2 separate regions of the Homo sapiens genome follow, and region 2 is linked to region 1. The links come from fine-mapping of genetic effects on gene expression. Tissue or cell type: fibroblasts. Region 1 holds a variant in brackets; the other region holds the start of a gene. All regions are shown on one strand. Distances are from middle to middle.

The links. PIP is the estimated chance that this variant, and not a neighbour inherited with it, causes the effect.
Region 2: ACADM starts here. The variant in region 1 is fine-mapped to the expression of ACADM in fibroblasts (GTEx, PIP above 0.99). The same link has a PIP of 0.9 or more in prefrontal cortex, testis and thyroid.

What each region holds. Positions count from the first base shown.
Region 1 is chr1:75,630,842-75,639,047 of GRCh38, forward strand. It overlaps a transcript of SLC44A5 not described here. Among named protein-coding and RNA genes, the nearest start is that of SLC44A5, 24 kb to the left of the region's middle. The variant G/A (reference allele first, on the strand shown) is at 3,194.
Region 2 is chr1:75,720,181-75,728,323 of GRCh38, forward strand. ACADM (acyl-CoA dehydrogenase medium chain) reads left to right here and starts at 4,529. Exons shown (of 12, transcript NM_000016.6): 1 at 4,529-4,637. The coding sequence starts at 4,608. It also overlaps a transcript of SLC44A5 not described here. RefSeq lists enhancers at 1-182, 3,915-4,004, 4,655-4,744 and silencers at 4,375-4,424, 4,475-4,524.

The DNA.
Region 1 (8,206 bases):
CAGAGAAAGACATGGACTCGCTGTCTTTCAGGTCCCCAACTATGTCAATACTCAGAAACAACTTAGAACACCAACAGAAGGCATTAAGTCGCCTATCCGGGGAGCCATATTCTTCAGGGTCTGAAATTCTTGCTGTGCCAGCACTGAGGCAATTTCCACTTCTCCGAGCATGCTCTGCAGTGTCTATTTAGGGTATTTGTACCATCAAAAAATACATCCACTTCTCCATCAGAGGCTGGTACTTAAGGTGGGTGAAATGTAAAACACTGTCAATTTCTCACCAAATAAATCTCTTTCTCTTCAACCTCAACTTCTTATGTAGACTAGAGAGGAGTGAATCACTGCAGCTGGCAGAACTAGTTTAGAACCTTGACCTTTGAAAGTTCAACATGAATGGTCTGGTTCCTCTCTTTAGAATGGGAAACATATTGTTTTGTTGTTAACTTTTCCAACAGTGCATCTTGTTGTCTACCATATCCTTTCTTGTATTATTACTGCTAGGGTATCTGTGACTTCCCTAAGACAGAGACAATATCACTCCTTTTTTTGGAGACAGGGTCTCACTCTGTCACTTAGACTGGAGTGCAGCAGCCTAATCTCATCTCACTGCAACCTCCACCTCCTGGGCTCAAGCCATCCTCTCACTTCTGTCTCCCAAGTAGCTGGGACTATAGGCATGCACAACCACACCTGGCTAATTTTTTTTTTTTTTTTTTTTTTTTTGAGACAGAGTTTTGCTCTGTCACCCAGGCTGGAGTGCAATGTCGCAATCTCAGCTCACTGTAAACTCTGCCTCCCGATTCTCCTGCCTCAGCCTCCCGAGTAGCTGGGATTACAGGCACACTCCACTGCGCCCAGCTAATTTTTGTATTTTTAGTAGAGACGGCGTTTCACCATGTTGGCCAGGCCAGTCTTGAACTCCTGACCTCAGGTGATCCACCTGCCTTGGCCCCCCAAAGCGCTGGGATTACAGACATGAGCCACTGCGCCCAGCCAATTTTTGTATTTTTTGTAGAGTTTTTGCCATGTTGCCCAGGCTGGCCTCAAGCTCCTGAGCTCAAACAATCTGCCAGCCTTGGCCTCCCAAAGTGCTGGATTACATGGATGAGCCACCCTGCCTGGACAGTATCACTCATCCTTATTTTCTCTGCAGTGCCTGGAGTCACTGACGACAAATCATAAGCACTTGGGAAATTTAATTTTAAGGAGAAGCCAACTTTTCCCTTCCTGTGCACATATTACCCACCCTTCAGTCCTGGATAAGGCTACCTTTTCCATGAAGAATTCCCTTCTATTTCAGCCCCATTATTTTCTCCGTGTCTCTGAACTCTGAAACTTTGTTCATATGATGCTTATGTCATCATGTAAATTTTTCTTTACCTTGCCTCTTCAGTACAGACTTGAGCTCTTTATGGATCATCTTATACTTACTTCTTTAGAGACATTCTTATAAAATATTCAATAAATATTGAAACAAATGCTGTGCTAACTCAGATAAAAAAATCATCTCAGCTATATGTATTTCAGAAGGAGCTACTTCTTTTTTTTTTTGCTTGTGTTGTGTAACATTAAACTAAAAATAATTCAAACAAGGATCATCCTGAAATGTTAGAGCAAGAGAGAACTTTAGAGATGATCAGTTCCACACAGTTTACTCCATTGTAATGAAGTGGCATCTTACAAATGCTGCCTCCCTTCACCCTCTGCTGACCATTCTAGAAACTGCACCTTTTAAAATCTCATTGCAGAATGACTATCATTCCTGTTTTTCCATGCTCCTGAAATTGTTTTTCAAGAGTCAGGTTTAAATGTGTTCTATATAATGGCACTTGTTCACGCTCCAGAAAAACTAAGACTCTATTACCCACAGGGAATATTTGAGCACTTGAGTTCTAGAGCCAAATTGCTTATGTTCATAAGTTAGTCCTTCTGCTTCTGGCTCAGACAAGTTACCTAACATCTCTGCTGATCAGTTTCTGATCTAAAAAATAAAAACAACAATAATAATGGTGATCTTTAAAAGTTGCTGTGAGGCTAAATCAATTAGTGTCTGCAAAACACTTAAAACAGTTCCCGAAAACAGCAAGCCCTCATTATTATTTGGTGGTGCTGGTAGTAGTTGTGATTAATAACTTTTATACCAATGACAAATATTTCTTGTTTGTTCATTTTAGCAGGCTAAACTGGAAAAGCTATACACACACTCTGATCTATTCATCTTTAAATCCCTAGTATTCAGCATGGTGTCTGGGACATAGTAATTACTCAACAAATGTTTGTTGAATAAAGTTTATAAATAATATGATTACTTAAAATGCAAGCTCTTTGTTCTTTTGGCTTAGGATTGGCTTGGCGATGCGGGCTCTTTTTTGGTTCCATATGAACTTTAAAGTAGTTTTTTCCAATTCTGTGAAGAAAGGCATTCGTAGCTTGATGGGGATGGCATTGCATCTATAAATTACCTTGGGCAGTATGGCCATTTTCACGACATTGATTCTTCCTACCCATGAGCATGGAATGTTCTTCCATTTCTTTGTATCCTCTTTTATTTCATTGAGCAGTGGTTTGTAGTTCTCCTTGAAGAGGTCCTTCATGTCCCTTGTAAAGTGGATTCCTAGGTATTTTATTCTCTTTGAAGCAATTGCGAATGGGAGTTTACTCATGATTTGGCTCTCTGTATGTCTGTTATTGGTGTATAAGAATGCTTGTGATTTTTGCACATTGATTTTGTATCCTGAGACTTTGCTGAAGTTGCCTATCAGCTTAAGGAGATTTTGGGCTGAGACAATGGGGTTTTCTAGATATACAATCATGTCATCTGCAAACAGGGACAATTTGACTTCCTCTTTTCCTAATTGAATACCCTTTATTTCCTTCTCCTGCCTAATTGCCCTGGCCAGAACTTCCAACACTATGTTGAATAGGAGTGGTGAGAGAGGGCATCCCTGTCTTGTGCCAGTTTTCAAAGGGAATGCTTCCAGTCTTTGCCCATTCAGTATGATATTGGCTGTGGGTTTGTCACAGATAGCTCTTATTATTTTGAGATATGTCCCATCAATACCTAATTTATTGAGAGTTCTTAGCATGAAGCATTGTTGAATTTTGTCAAAGGCCTTTTCTGCATCTATTGAGATAATCATGTGGTTTTTGTCTTTGGTTCTGTTTATATGCTGGATTACATTTATTGATTTGC[G/A]TATATTGAACCAGCCTTGCATCCCAGGGATGAAGCCCAGTTGATCATGGTGGATAAGCTTTTTGATGTGCTGCTGGATTCGCTTTGCCAGTATTTTATGGAGTATTTTTGCATCAATGTTCATCAAGGATATTGGTCTAAAATTCTCTTTTTTGGTTGTGTCTCTGCCCGGCTTTGGTATCAGGATGATGCTGGCCTCCTCAAATGAGTTAGGGAGGATTCCCTCTTTTTCTATTGATTGGAATAGTTTCAGAAGGAATGGTACCAGTTCCTCCTTGTACCTCTGGTAGAATTCGGCTGTGAATCCAACTGGTCCTGGACTCTTTTTGGTTGGTAAGCTATTAAGCTGGAGGCATCACGCTACCTGACTTCAAACTATACTACAAGGCTACAGTAACCAAAACAGCATGGTACTGGTACCAAAACAGAGATATAGATCAATGGAACAGAACAGAGCCCTCAGAAATAACGCCGCATATCTACAACTATCTGATCTTTGACAAACCTGAGAAAAACAAGCAATGGGGAAAGGATTCCCTATTTAATAAATGGTGCTGGGAAAACTGGCTAGACATATGTAGAAAGCTGAAACTGGATCCCTTCCTTACACCTTATACAAAAATGAATTCAAGATGGATTAAAGACTTAAATGTTAGACCTAAAACCATAAAAACCCTAGAAGAAAACCTAGGCATTACCATTCAGGACATAGGCATGGGCAAGGACTTCATGTCTAAAACACCAAAAGCAATGGCAACAAAAGACAAAATTGATAAATGGGATCTAATTAAAGAGCTTCTGCACAGCAAAAGAAACTACCATCAGAGTGAACAGGCAACCTACAAAGTGGGAGAAAATTTTCGCAACTTACTCATCTGACAAAGGGCTAATATCTAGAATCTACAATGAACTCAAACACATTTACAAGAAAAAAACAAACAACCCCATCAAAAAGTGGGCGAAGGATATGAACAGACATTTCTCAAAAGAAGACATTTATGCAGCCAACAGACACATGAAAAAATGCTCACCATCACTGGCCATCAGAGAAATGCAAATCAAAACCACAATGAGATACCATCTCACACTAGTTAGAATGGCAATCATTAAAAAGTCAGGAAACAACAGGTGCTGGAGAGGATGTGGAGAAATAGGAACACTTTTACACTGTTGGTGGGACTGTAAACTAGTTCAACCATTGTGGAAGTCAGTGTGGCGATTCCTCGGGGATCTAGAACTAGAAATACCATTTGACCCAGCCATCCCATTACTGGGTATATACCCAAAGGACTATAAATCATGATGCTATAAAGACACATGCACACGTATGTTTATTGTGGCACTATTCACAATAGCAAAGACTTGAAATCAACCCAAATGTCCAACAATGATAGACTGGATTAAGAAAATGTGGCACATATACACCATGGAATACTATGCAGCCATAAAAAATGATGAGTTCATGTCCTTTGTAGGGACATGGATGAAATTGGAAATCATTCTCAGTAAACTATTGCAAGGACAAATAACCAAACACCGCATGTTCTCACTCATAGGTGGGAATTGAACAATGAGAACACATGGACACAGGAAGGGGAACATCACACTCTGGGGACTGTTGTGGGGTGGGGGGAGGGGGGGAGGAATAGCATTAGGAGATACACCTAATGCTAAATGACGAGTTAATGGGTGCATCACACCAGCATGGCACATGTATACATATGTAACTAACCTGCACATTGTGCACATGTACCCTAAAACTTAAAGTATAATAATAATAAAAAAAAAATGCAAGCTCTGATTTACACTCAGTCCAAATCTTGACTCTGCCATTTAATAGGTATGAAACTTAACTTTGGGGAGGGATTATTTATGTATTTATTTTTAACTTGTTTAAATTTATGGGGTACAAGTGTAAATTTGTTACATTCATAGATCGTGTAATTGTAACGTCAAGGCTTCAGGGTATCCATCACCTGAATAACATACATTTTCCCCATTAAGTAATTCCTCATCATGCACCCCTGCCACACCCACCCATTCACCCCTCGGAGTCTCCTTTGCCTATCATTTCACTCTCTACATCCATGTTTACACATTTTTTAGCTTCCACGTATGAGTGAGAACATGCGATGTTAGGCTTTTTGTGTCTGGCTTGTGAAACTTAACTTTTCTGAACTGTTATCATATATATAAAATGATGGTGATTACAGCTCACACTTCCTAAGACTGTTATAAGAATTAAGATATTATATACAAGAAAAGCACTTACAATAAGATCTGGCACAGAGTAAACAATAAGTAAATGTTAGATAATATTATTTATAAAGATTTCCCAAAGTAATATTTATAAAGTATAAGCAGACTTGTAAGAGCATCTGACATACCTGAGTTTGAATTCTGACTCTACCATTTGCTAGATATAGGGATTTAAACATGATACTTAGCCTGTAAACCCAAAATCCTGATTTAGAATTCAGATAATACTACTTCCTTTCTGTTTTAAGAAGTAAATGAAATGGAGTGTATAAAACAACACTGTGCCTGAGGAACTGCAATCATTTAATAAATGACTAGTTTTGTTTTGCTGATGTAGTTCTTGTTTTTATTATTAGCTTTGCCAATAAGGAATTTTAATCCAGATAAGAAACAAAGAAATAAATAACTACAGTATAATGCAAGTAAATGTCATGGAAATAATAAAGTTAACAAATGCTTTGACAGTTTATGAGTAGGAATGATCAGTGTGAGCTGCAGTAATAAAGAATACTTTCTGAAACAGATAACATTTCTATAAAAGAAAATAGAGAATAGGTAGATATCCCAGGCAAAAAGAAGTATGACCTCAGGAAAGGTAAACCAAAGCACAAAAGCAGGAAGAACAAGGCTTATTTGAGCAGTAGAGAAAATGGGCACAATTAGTAGATTTATTATAAAGATATTCATCAAATTATTAATCCAGACCTGCACTGACCAATATGGTAATCATTAGCTGTATGTGACTAAAGAGTTCTCGAAATATGGCTAGCATAACTAAGGGACTGAATTTTTAATTTAACATAATTTTAACTAATTTAGATTTAGAAACTGAAACAGTTCATAGGAGCCAGCAACTCCATTCCTCAGTATATATTCAAAATAATTAAAAACAAAAACTCACACCAATACTTGCACAAAAATGTTCATTGCAGCACTATTCACAGTAGCCAAAAGGTGGAAACAACCCAAACATCCATCAATATATGAGTGGATAAGCAAAATGTGGTCTATACATGCTATGGGATATAATTCAGCCATAAAAAGAAATGATCCTGATACATGCCACAACACTGATGAACCTCAAAAAACATTATACTAAGTGAAATAAGCCAGACCCAAAAGGACAAAAATTGCACTTACATTAAGTATCTAGAATAGTCAAAGTCATAGAGAGAAGAAGTAGCGTAGAGGTTACCAGGGGCTAGTGGAAGTGAGGAATGGAGAGTTATTGCTTAATGGGTACAGAGTTTCTGTCTGGGTGATGAAGAGTGTTTGGAAATAATGGTATGGTTGTACAACACTGTGAATTTAGTTAATGACACTGAATTGCAACTGAAAAATGTTTAAAATGACAATATTTTTGGTGATATATATTTTATTACATTAAGAAATTAAGCAGAGTAAAATATTTTTCTGATAAACATATCTTCATTGTATTTAAAGTTTATCAATTCCGGGTCAAACTGGGGGAGTGGAGAAGACAAATTAAAAAATATTTTATTGGGAAAATTTATAAGAATTGAAACATGGGAATACCCACTATACACAGACATGCCTTTAAAAGGACTATCCATGAGATCCCCTTAAATTAGCCTCTTCCAAAAAGATATTAAAATAGTGCTTGAAATTTTAATTCAAAAGTATAGTGAATTTCTTTCCCTCTATTACCTAGTACCTCACTGATATAAATCCGCCTATGCAGTTGACATAGTTTTGCCAAATTATTGTATATTCTCTTGACCTTCCTTCTTAAAATATTTATTATAATTGTGTAATAATAGCTAACATTTACATGGCAATTGTTGTATTAACTCTTTTAATCCTCATGACATCTCTATGCAGTAAATATGATACAAAATAAAAAGACTTAAATAATATGACATCATTTATTGTCTTATTATAATATTAGAAGCTAATAGTACGATTAAAGCAAGTTTCATGTTTCAAGTATAGTGACTCTGATGGCCATCACTGCTCCAAAATCACACAAGTGAAACATAGAAGCATTTGTATGATTTAACATAGTAAGTAGAATCTAGTTTTAATAGCTATTTTATAACCTGAAATGTATTTATTCTTATAATAACAAACACAGTGTTAATATGTATTAAAGTTGTAGGATCTTAATATCAAAACAAAATGAAATAAAACCTGCAAGGAATCAGGAAAAGTTCAACACTGTCCCATGAGGATTTATAGTGAGGAAAGTGGTGCAGTCTAGGTTTAACTAAGGTAGGAAAGCCAACGAAAGAGCCCAGGCTGTGTTACACAGAGACAGCAATTGAATATACTCCACAGCTGAAATCATAAAGTTTCTCAAGCAACCCATTAATAATTAAATTTGCTTTCTCTGATAAATCTTGTCAGCCTGCTCCAAGGAAAACGGTCCTTCTTTCTTTGTAGTTTTCAGCCAATCAACTTGCCCATGGACAAAAAACAAAATTCATTATTTTTATGACTATACATAGCTTTCCACTATGTATATTTACCACATTTTCTTTATCCATTCCTTCATTTTCGACACTTAGATTCATTCCAATATCTTGGCTGTTGTGAATAGTGCTGCAATAAACATCAGAATGTAGATATCTTCTGCCAATTGCAACAATATGAATGAACCTGGAGGACACTGTGTTAAGTGAAATAAGCCAGGCACAGGAGCACAATTATCACATAATCTCACACGTATGTGGAATCTAAACAAGTTGATTCATGTAACTGGAGAGTAGATGAGTGATTTCCACGGGCTGAGGT
Region 2 (8,143 bases), 89 kb after region 1:
ACTGGGATCCACCATCTTGTCTCACTGCCGCCTGAGATGCAGACAGGGCTTCTGTTTTTAAGTCTCCATTAAATGTTTCTTTTTGAGAAACGTTAATGTGTCAGCCTCTTTCTTTAGCCTCTCAGCTTCCTTAGACTTTGGAGCGTAGGTCTGTATAGTCCTGCTTACCTTGAAATAGATGGGTTAGGGAGAAGGAACACCAGGGAGACGTTCGAATTATTTCACCTAAAAATGTAGAGAAGTTTTGTGAAACAGTGCTTAATTAATAAAAAGGTATTTCTTGAGAGATGGTTCTATTCCTACTACTGGCAAAAATGTAGATGAAAGATTGTTTGGCATGATGCCAAATATTACCCTATAAATTACTTCCTAATTGCAAAGGGAAAACTATAACTTTACCATAGAAAGAACTGTCTGTCAATAATCAAATGATCAAATAGCATTGTCAACAAAGAGTCAAACTTTGTAAAATATTTGAAGAGATTTATTCCGAGCCAAATATGAGTGATCATGGCCCACGACACAGTCCTTGGGAGATCCTGAGAACATGTGCTCAGGGTGGTTGGGGTGCAGGTTGGTTTTATATATTTTAGGGAAATATGAGACTTCAATCAAATACATTTAAGAAATACATTGGTTCAGTTCAGAAAGACAGGACAACTTGAAGCAGGGGTGGAGCTGGGGGGGTAGGCGGGGGGAGGTTCCAGGTTATAGGCAGATTTAAACATTTTCTGGCTGACACTTGGTTAAGTTTATCTAAAGACCTGGAACCAACAGAAAGGAAATGTCTGGGTTAAGATTAAAGGATTGTGGAGACCAAAGTTCTTATTGTGCAAAGGAAGCCTTCAGGTGAGAACAGAAAAGCATTCTGTTATCTCTCTCCTTCAGAGAGAAGAGATTGTAAATGTTTCTTATCAGACTTAAGGTCTGTGTTGATGTTAACATCACTGAGGTATAAAGAGGCATGTCCAACCCCCACTTCCCATCATGGCCTGAAGTAGTCTTTCAGGTTAAATTTAAATTTTAGAGTGCCCTAGCCTACGAGAAAGTCCATTCAGATAGTTGGGGGGAATTTAGAATTTTGTTTTTGGTTTACAGCAAGCTTGTCCAACCTGCTGCCCACAGACCACATGCAACCCACAGGCCACATGCAGCTCAGGACAGCTTTGCATGCAGCCCAACATAAATTTGTAAGCTTTCTTAAAACGTTATGAAATTTTCTTGCGTTTTTGTTTTGGTTTGTAGCTTATCAGTTAACATTAGTGTTAGTGTATTTTATGTATAGCCCAAGACAATTCTTTTTCTTCCAGTGTGGCCCAGGGAAGCCAAAAGATTGGACACTGCTGGCTTACACCATCACCAATAGTGGGACAAATCTGATATTAAATGCCTCCTAATGTAATACAATATTAACTACACAGTATGACCTTTGAAGTATCCTTATCCAATGTTTAATCTGAACTCCTCAAGCCTCTGGTAACTTGCAACTGATAGGAAATACAAAATCTAGAGGTACAAAATAAATAAAATCGGACAATCCAGCATTAGGGCATTCTTCATGACAACTGCTTGGTATCTTAAATTTGTTTAAAAAGACAGTTATTATTGGGAAAAATGAATTAGATTAAAAGCTTTAGATTAAAAGAAGCCAAAGAAAGTTAAAGCCCAACTTCAATGGGCAATCATTCATAGGATCCTGGTTCAAAAACAAACTATTTACAAAAGGTATTCTGGAGACAACTGGACAACTGGAGAAATGTAAATATTCTCTGGACCTTAAATAATAGTAGCGAATAATTGTTAATTTTCATTGATGTGATAAAGGTTTTATAGGAAATGGTTATATAGGAAAATGTCCTTGTAGGAGACATATAGCTAAAGTATTCTGAACTGAAGTGTCTTATCTACAACCTACAGATCTGAGAAAAATAAAACCAACAACCAAAACACACACACATAGGTACACATATAAATATATAAATAAATATGGAAAAATATTTGAATCTAGGTGATAATGATATTGAGAAGAAATTACTCAGGCCGATAGTACGAGTATGGGAGTCCTCAGTGTAAAAAGTGAAGTAGAGGTTCCTCTTCAAATGGACTTTCCTTTCCGTCTAATTAGGAATAAACAGTAACTTCTCTTAAAAGCAAAATTTATTCAAAGAACTGTGCTAACATATTGGAGGCCGAAACAATGAGGTTCGTGATCAACTCAGTATATCACTGGAGGCTATATGAGTAAGCAGCAAACTGTTTCTCATAAATGCAGAACGTTGGCGAACTGACAAACTGCGTATGCCACCCAGGAGGACTGCTGAGGGTAGTTACGATCTAGGCACAAATGTTTCTTATGATTAGGCATAATTGAAGCCTGTCAGTAACAATATGAACCTGTGATCAATTAAGCAGCTGACCAATCGTTACCACCTCCTCCCTGCTCCTGTTACCCAAAAAATAGGAAGGGCTGTGGAAGCTCTGTGGCTGCCTTTGCTCACGAGAAGCAGGGAGCTCTCTTCTTCTTCCCCTGGCCCTTTCCTTAAAACAGTTCCTTTTGTCTTAAGTTATCATTTCTACGTTCGTCCCTTCATTTGATCTCACAATGATGGTCTCAAGCAGTAACAGTAGTAACTGCTGTAACGATGGTCTCAAGTAGTAACCGTGGCAGTTGGCCACACTAACATTCTTTGATATCTGTTGGCCGTAATAAAGAAATCAATGTACTTTGTGCTCTTAGCTGCCACATTTTAGCCTAGATATTTGCCCTGGCATGCTTATACTGGTCCAAGGAAGCATTAGGCCATAGCCTGTTTTCTTCCTTATCTGGAGGTGTTTTTACCTTTCTCAGCATTCCACAAGTTGCTTCCTCCTTCCTTTGTTCTCCTCTGTCTTTGCCTCTTTTGGAAAGTTCTAAGTTGCTAGCCAATCAGGACAAGTACAGAGGTCCCCTTCCAGCCAATGGAAACCGGACACGGTAGTAGGGTGCACGTGTCAGGTTATAAATGACCCTGTCTCCTTTATGCGTGTGTGCTCTCGTGGCAAGACTACTAGCGAGCGGCAACCTTTCTGCAGAAAGTAAACTAGCCTTGCTAAGAGCTCCTTTGTCTCAGTGTTGATTTTTGCAACACTGAGCGCCCGTTCCCAACATCAGTAAGGCTTTTCTTTTTAATGAAAAGCAGCCCCAAATCCTTTTCTAAGAGCAGCCTGTGAAGTCGAGCTGCAGGCACAGACAAACAAGGGGGTAGCTTGCTTGGGTGAATGGTGGCAGGAACTACCGACTAGACATGTTTAAGATGAGGGCTCCATCTTCGCTTCTCTGCCAGCCACGTGTACAGTAAGAAGGGGTTACAATAGGCATATGGGTGATTTTGTGCTTTTCGTTCATCTTTTCTGTGTTTAAAATGTTCAGAATAAGAAATTGGAACAAAGGAGACATGAATAGACAATTCCTAATCATCTTTAAGAGTCCGCTTTGTGTTTTACTTACCACCACCACTTTGAAGGCTTTCTTGCCTATACCAGGACAAACTCAGCTCTTTATCCCTTTTCCGAATTTTCCTGGTACTTTCACTTTGAATATAGCGCTTAATTAACATTCTGCCTTGTACCTAGGACTAACACACTATAAATTCCCAGAAGACAAAGTAGGGGAATACAATAACAGGATATAGAATTTTAACAGCTAAATTAGATGAATTTATGGGTGACCTTTATTGGGCAAAAGAAAATGTTAAGTTAGTATAAGATTTAGTATAAGCTACCATCTCAAAACTCAGGGTCTCACTGGAAGAGAAAGTGACTCCAGGTAGAATTCCTCAGGGAGACATTCACTTCCATCATTCGCTGAACCAGGAGCTTTGGACAGCCTCGGATTGCACCCGCATATCCAAGGACACCACATCAGCGGACAAGTCATAAACAGCCTTGGGAATACGCGGAAAGGTCAAATTTACCTAAACAATTAAATTCTCTTTTAAATTTTAAGGAAACACAAGTATGCTTTCGCTTTAGGTAGGGCATTTGAGAGCAAAATGTACTAATACTTTGAATCCGCCAAGCAGACACGATCTGGGTTTGACCGTTCTCTCCGGGTAAAGGTGAAGGCTGACCACGGGGGCCGCTCTCCCTCCAGGCCCCAGCCACGCCCTCTAACCCAGGTTCCCGTCCTGCACCGCGCCGCAAGTCCCCCCACCGTTCAGCGCAACCGGGCCCTCCCAGCCCCGCCGCCGTCCCCCTCCCCCGCCCTGGCTCTCTTTCCGCGCTGCGGTCAGCCTCGGCGTCCCACAGAGAGGGCCAGAGGTGGAAACGCAGAAAACCAAACCAGGACTATCAGAGATTGCCCGGAGAGGGGATGCGACCCCTCCCCAGGTCGCAGCGACGGCGCACGCAAGGGTCACGGAGCATGCGTTGGCTACCCGGCGCCGGGGACCGCTGCCACCCCGCCTAGCGCAGCGCCCCGTCCTTCCGCAGCCCAACCGCCTCTTCCCGCCCCGCCCCATCCCGCCCACGGGCTCCAGTGGGCGGGACCAGAGGAGTCCCGCGTTCGGGGAGTATGTCAAGGCCGTGACCCGTGTATTATTGTCCGAGTGGCCGGAACGGGAGCCAACATGGCAGCGGGGTTCGGGCGATGCTGCAGGGTGAGAGGGAGCCCAGCGGTGCGGTGGGGCTGGAACATGGGTATTGTGGTGTCGGAGCAGGGGGCCCTGGGCCAAAAATAGGTGCGGCCGGGAGGAGTGGGAAGTCGGGCTGAGGAAGGAGCCAGCCTAGGGGCCCCCAACCTGCTTTCACGCCTCCTACCACCGGACGGAACGTAGCCTAGCGTTTCATTTTCCGTATCCTCCCGTCAGGCGACCCCGTTATAGCCGGCATCCTCTCTTTAGAATATCGTTTTTCTTTCTCTGGTAAACCCTCCAAATATTTACCGCGGGAATCCCACCTTTTTCCAAAGTGACCCCGTCTCTGTGTCAGAACCACGGGAAAAAGAAAAATGGAGCAGCTACTCCTTGAAATACTTAATGTTTAATAAGCTTTTCGTTGTAACGTTTCCACGTTGCTTACGGGAAAAAAAAAAGTAAAAAAAAAACCTGCAGAATTTTATGTGAACTTGTGTGTATATTCTAGTATTGGATCTTAATAGATTCTAAATAAGTTTGTCACTAGATGAATTTTGGTATCTTAAATATTCTTGATATGTTCACACCACTGCCATTTAGATGTCACTTAAAATTAAGTTAAAGTTATGTCTTGGACCAAAAAAGCTGCGGTTTTAGAATAATCCTAAAGAATTGCTGCCCATGTTTTGCTGGTGTTATGCAAGTTAATGTGCAGTGAAGGCAGAAATTGGGAGATTTCAGCTATTTTTAACTCCTACACCAGAAAAGCAGATTTCTCAACCTCCAAGGAAGGATCTAAAAAAAACCTGATATAGAAAACTTACACCCTTTTTCTCTTCTTTAACCCATAAAACTGACACTCTTATATTCCCAAGAAATGCACAAAAGTGTTCAATTCTAGTGGTGCTGTTTCGATATTTGGAATTTCATTGTTCTAGACAGAGAGCCCGAAGTAATAAAACCAATAGTTATATAGCATTAGGCTTTCAAAACATTATCGTACTTTAATCGTCCGAAAATACGCAGTGAGATTAGTCCCATTTTTTGGTTTTGAACGGAAGCTATAAGCAGTTTGTAAACCTGTCTACGGCCACAAATATGGTTGTGGAACCTAGATTCACATTCAGCAATTATAACTCCAGATCCCGTGCTGTTTCTGTTTTCTATTTGCAAACCACCTCTCTAATTAACTGGCTAACTTTGTTATGTAATTAACAGGTTGATGGGCATTGTATTCTGGTAATAGCAACCTTTGCACTTTGTTCTATGTAACATATTTTCCTGAACAGTCACATGTGAAGTGACTTTTTCCCTATTTAAATTCCCTCGGTTGGCCAGGTGCGGCGGCTCACGGTTGTGATCCTAGCACCTTGGGAGGCCTCGGCGGGTTGATCACTTAAGGCCAGGAGTTCGAGACCAGCCTGGCCAAAGCAGGGAAACCCTGTCTTTACTAAAAATAGGAAAAATTAGCTGGGCATGGTAGCATATGCCTGTAATCCCAGGAGGCTGAGTCTGCAGTGAGCGGAGATCTCTCCACCGCACTCTAGCCTGGGTGACAGAGGGAGACTCTGTCAAAAAAAAAAAAAAGTCCCTCAGTAGACCATTTAACCTGGTTTGAGTTCTGACTTTTGTGCATGGTATTTAAAAACGCATTTATAATAGAGTCAGGTTTTTTGTTCTGATTTTTGTGGAATGTTTTCCTTTGTTATGGAACCTAGTGACCAATTAGGATACTAACAGAAAGATCAGTATAGCAAGGTGGTTAATAGCATGCGCTCTTGATAGTAAATGTTAGAATCCTGGTTGCACTAATAGTAGAGTGACTTTGCCTAATTTAGTTGACTTTCTGAGCCTTCGTTTCTTCACATGCGAAAGTGGAATAAAAGTAATGGCTTAATCCTAGACTTGACCTGGGATTCAGTGAATTAACCTGTGTAACGCGACTGTAAATCAGAGTAGATTTGGTCTGTGACTGCTGGACAATAAGCACCAGAGAAACTGTTTCACTTTTTTTTTTTTTTTTTTTTTTGAGACGGAGTCTTGCTCTGTCACCCAGGCTGGAATGCAATGGTGCAGTCTAGGCTCACTGCAACCTCCGCCTTCCGGGTTCAAGCGATTCTCCTGCCTCAGCGTCCCGAGTAGCTGGGACTACAGGTGCGTGCCACCACACCTGGCTAATTTTTGTATTTTTAGTAGAAATGGGGTTTCACCATGTTGGTCAGGCTGGTCTCAAACCCCTGACCTCGTGATCCGCCCACCTCAGCCTCCCAAAGTGCTGGGATTACACGCATGAGCCACCCCACCTGGCACTGTTTCACTTTCAAAATAAAATTAATGAAGATGCAAAGAAAATGCGAGTTTTCATACTCTGTATGTTTTTATTACTGTAGTATGAGGTATGTTATTTGGAAAGCACTGTTTCAATTACAAATATTTGACACTCTTAATTATATTGTCACCTTACATGTAGGAATTCGTCTTTTATAAGTTGAAATTGTCATCTACAAAGACAGTTTCTTTTTACGGATTTTGAAAAACATAAGAATTTAAATAAAGAAACTTTAGTATATTCTTCAGCTGCTCTTTTCTCTTAGTATCTAAGCTTGTTAAAATTGCTGGATAGTTCAATTAAAATCTTTTACAGTGAAAATTGTGTAATTTTGACTGTCCTGAAACCTTTACTCAAGAACACCATTGTGGTTCCCAGTTTGGCAGCTTTAATAAATGCAAATTTTTACTTTTGTATCCATTAAACTGTCATGAATATAAAAATGGGTTGCAAAACAATAATATATGTATATTTGATTGTTTGTTTCTTTATATGTTCCTTTGAAGAAATATGACTATATTTCAGATCCTAAGACAAGTAGTGTATTAGTAGTTTAGAAGAGGGATGGCAAACGTGTTTGTAAAGGAACGGATAGTACATGTTTTTGGCTTTGTGAACCAGATGGTCTCTGTGGTAACTACTTAGATCTGCTGTGAAAGCGGCAATAGACAGCATGATGTGGCTGCACTGGTTTGGTGACTCCTTGCTCAGAACATTGTAAGAATCCCTGTAGACAGCAGAAAATACAGAACATGGTTTTATGCTAATTTGTTTTGTTAGAGTGGGGTATCCTAAAAAATGAGATCCTCTGAGGGGAAGGTTTCCAGAGGCATGCATGGGAGGCTCACAGTGACAGGGTATCAAAGTTGATGGACTAGGCAACTCTTGAACACAGTATGTTCACTTCCAGCCTATCGTTCTCCCCACCCCAACTCTCCAACCATTAATGTCCTAGGAGCTTGTAAGATACCCAGAATAGTGGTCCTACATCTACTACTACCCTTGACTGTTGTTTGTCCTAAACCCTCCACTTCAGTAGTATAAATACCACTGACTTTATTTTCATTACTTTTTAAAAACATCTCCTCTGTAATAGGAATTTATATAACTGATAATTGGCTTATTTAAATTATGATTGAAGGCATTTAAATAGTGATGACTTTAAAAACTATGAGTATGGTCAAACCAGTTGCTGTACTCA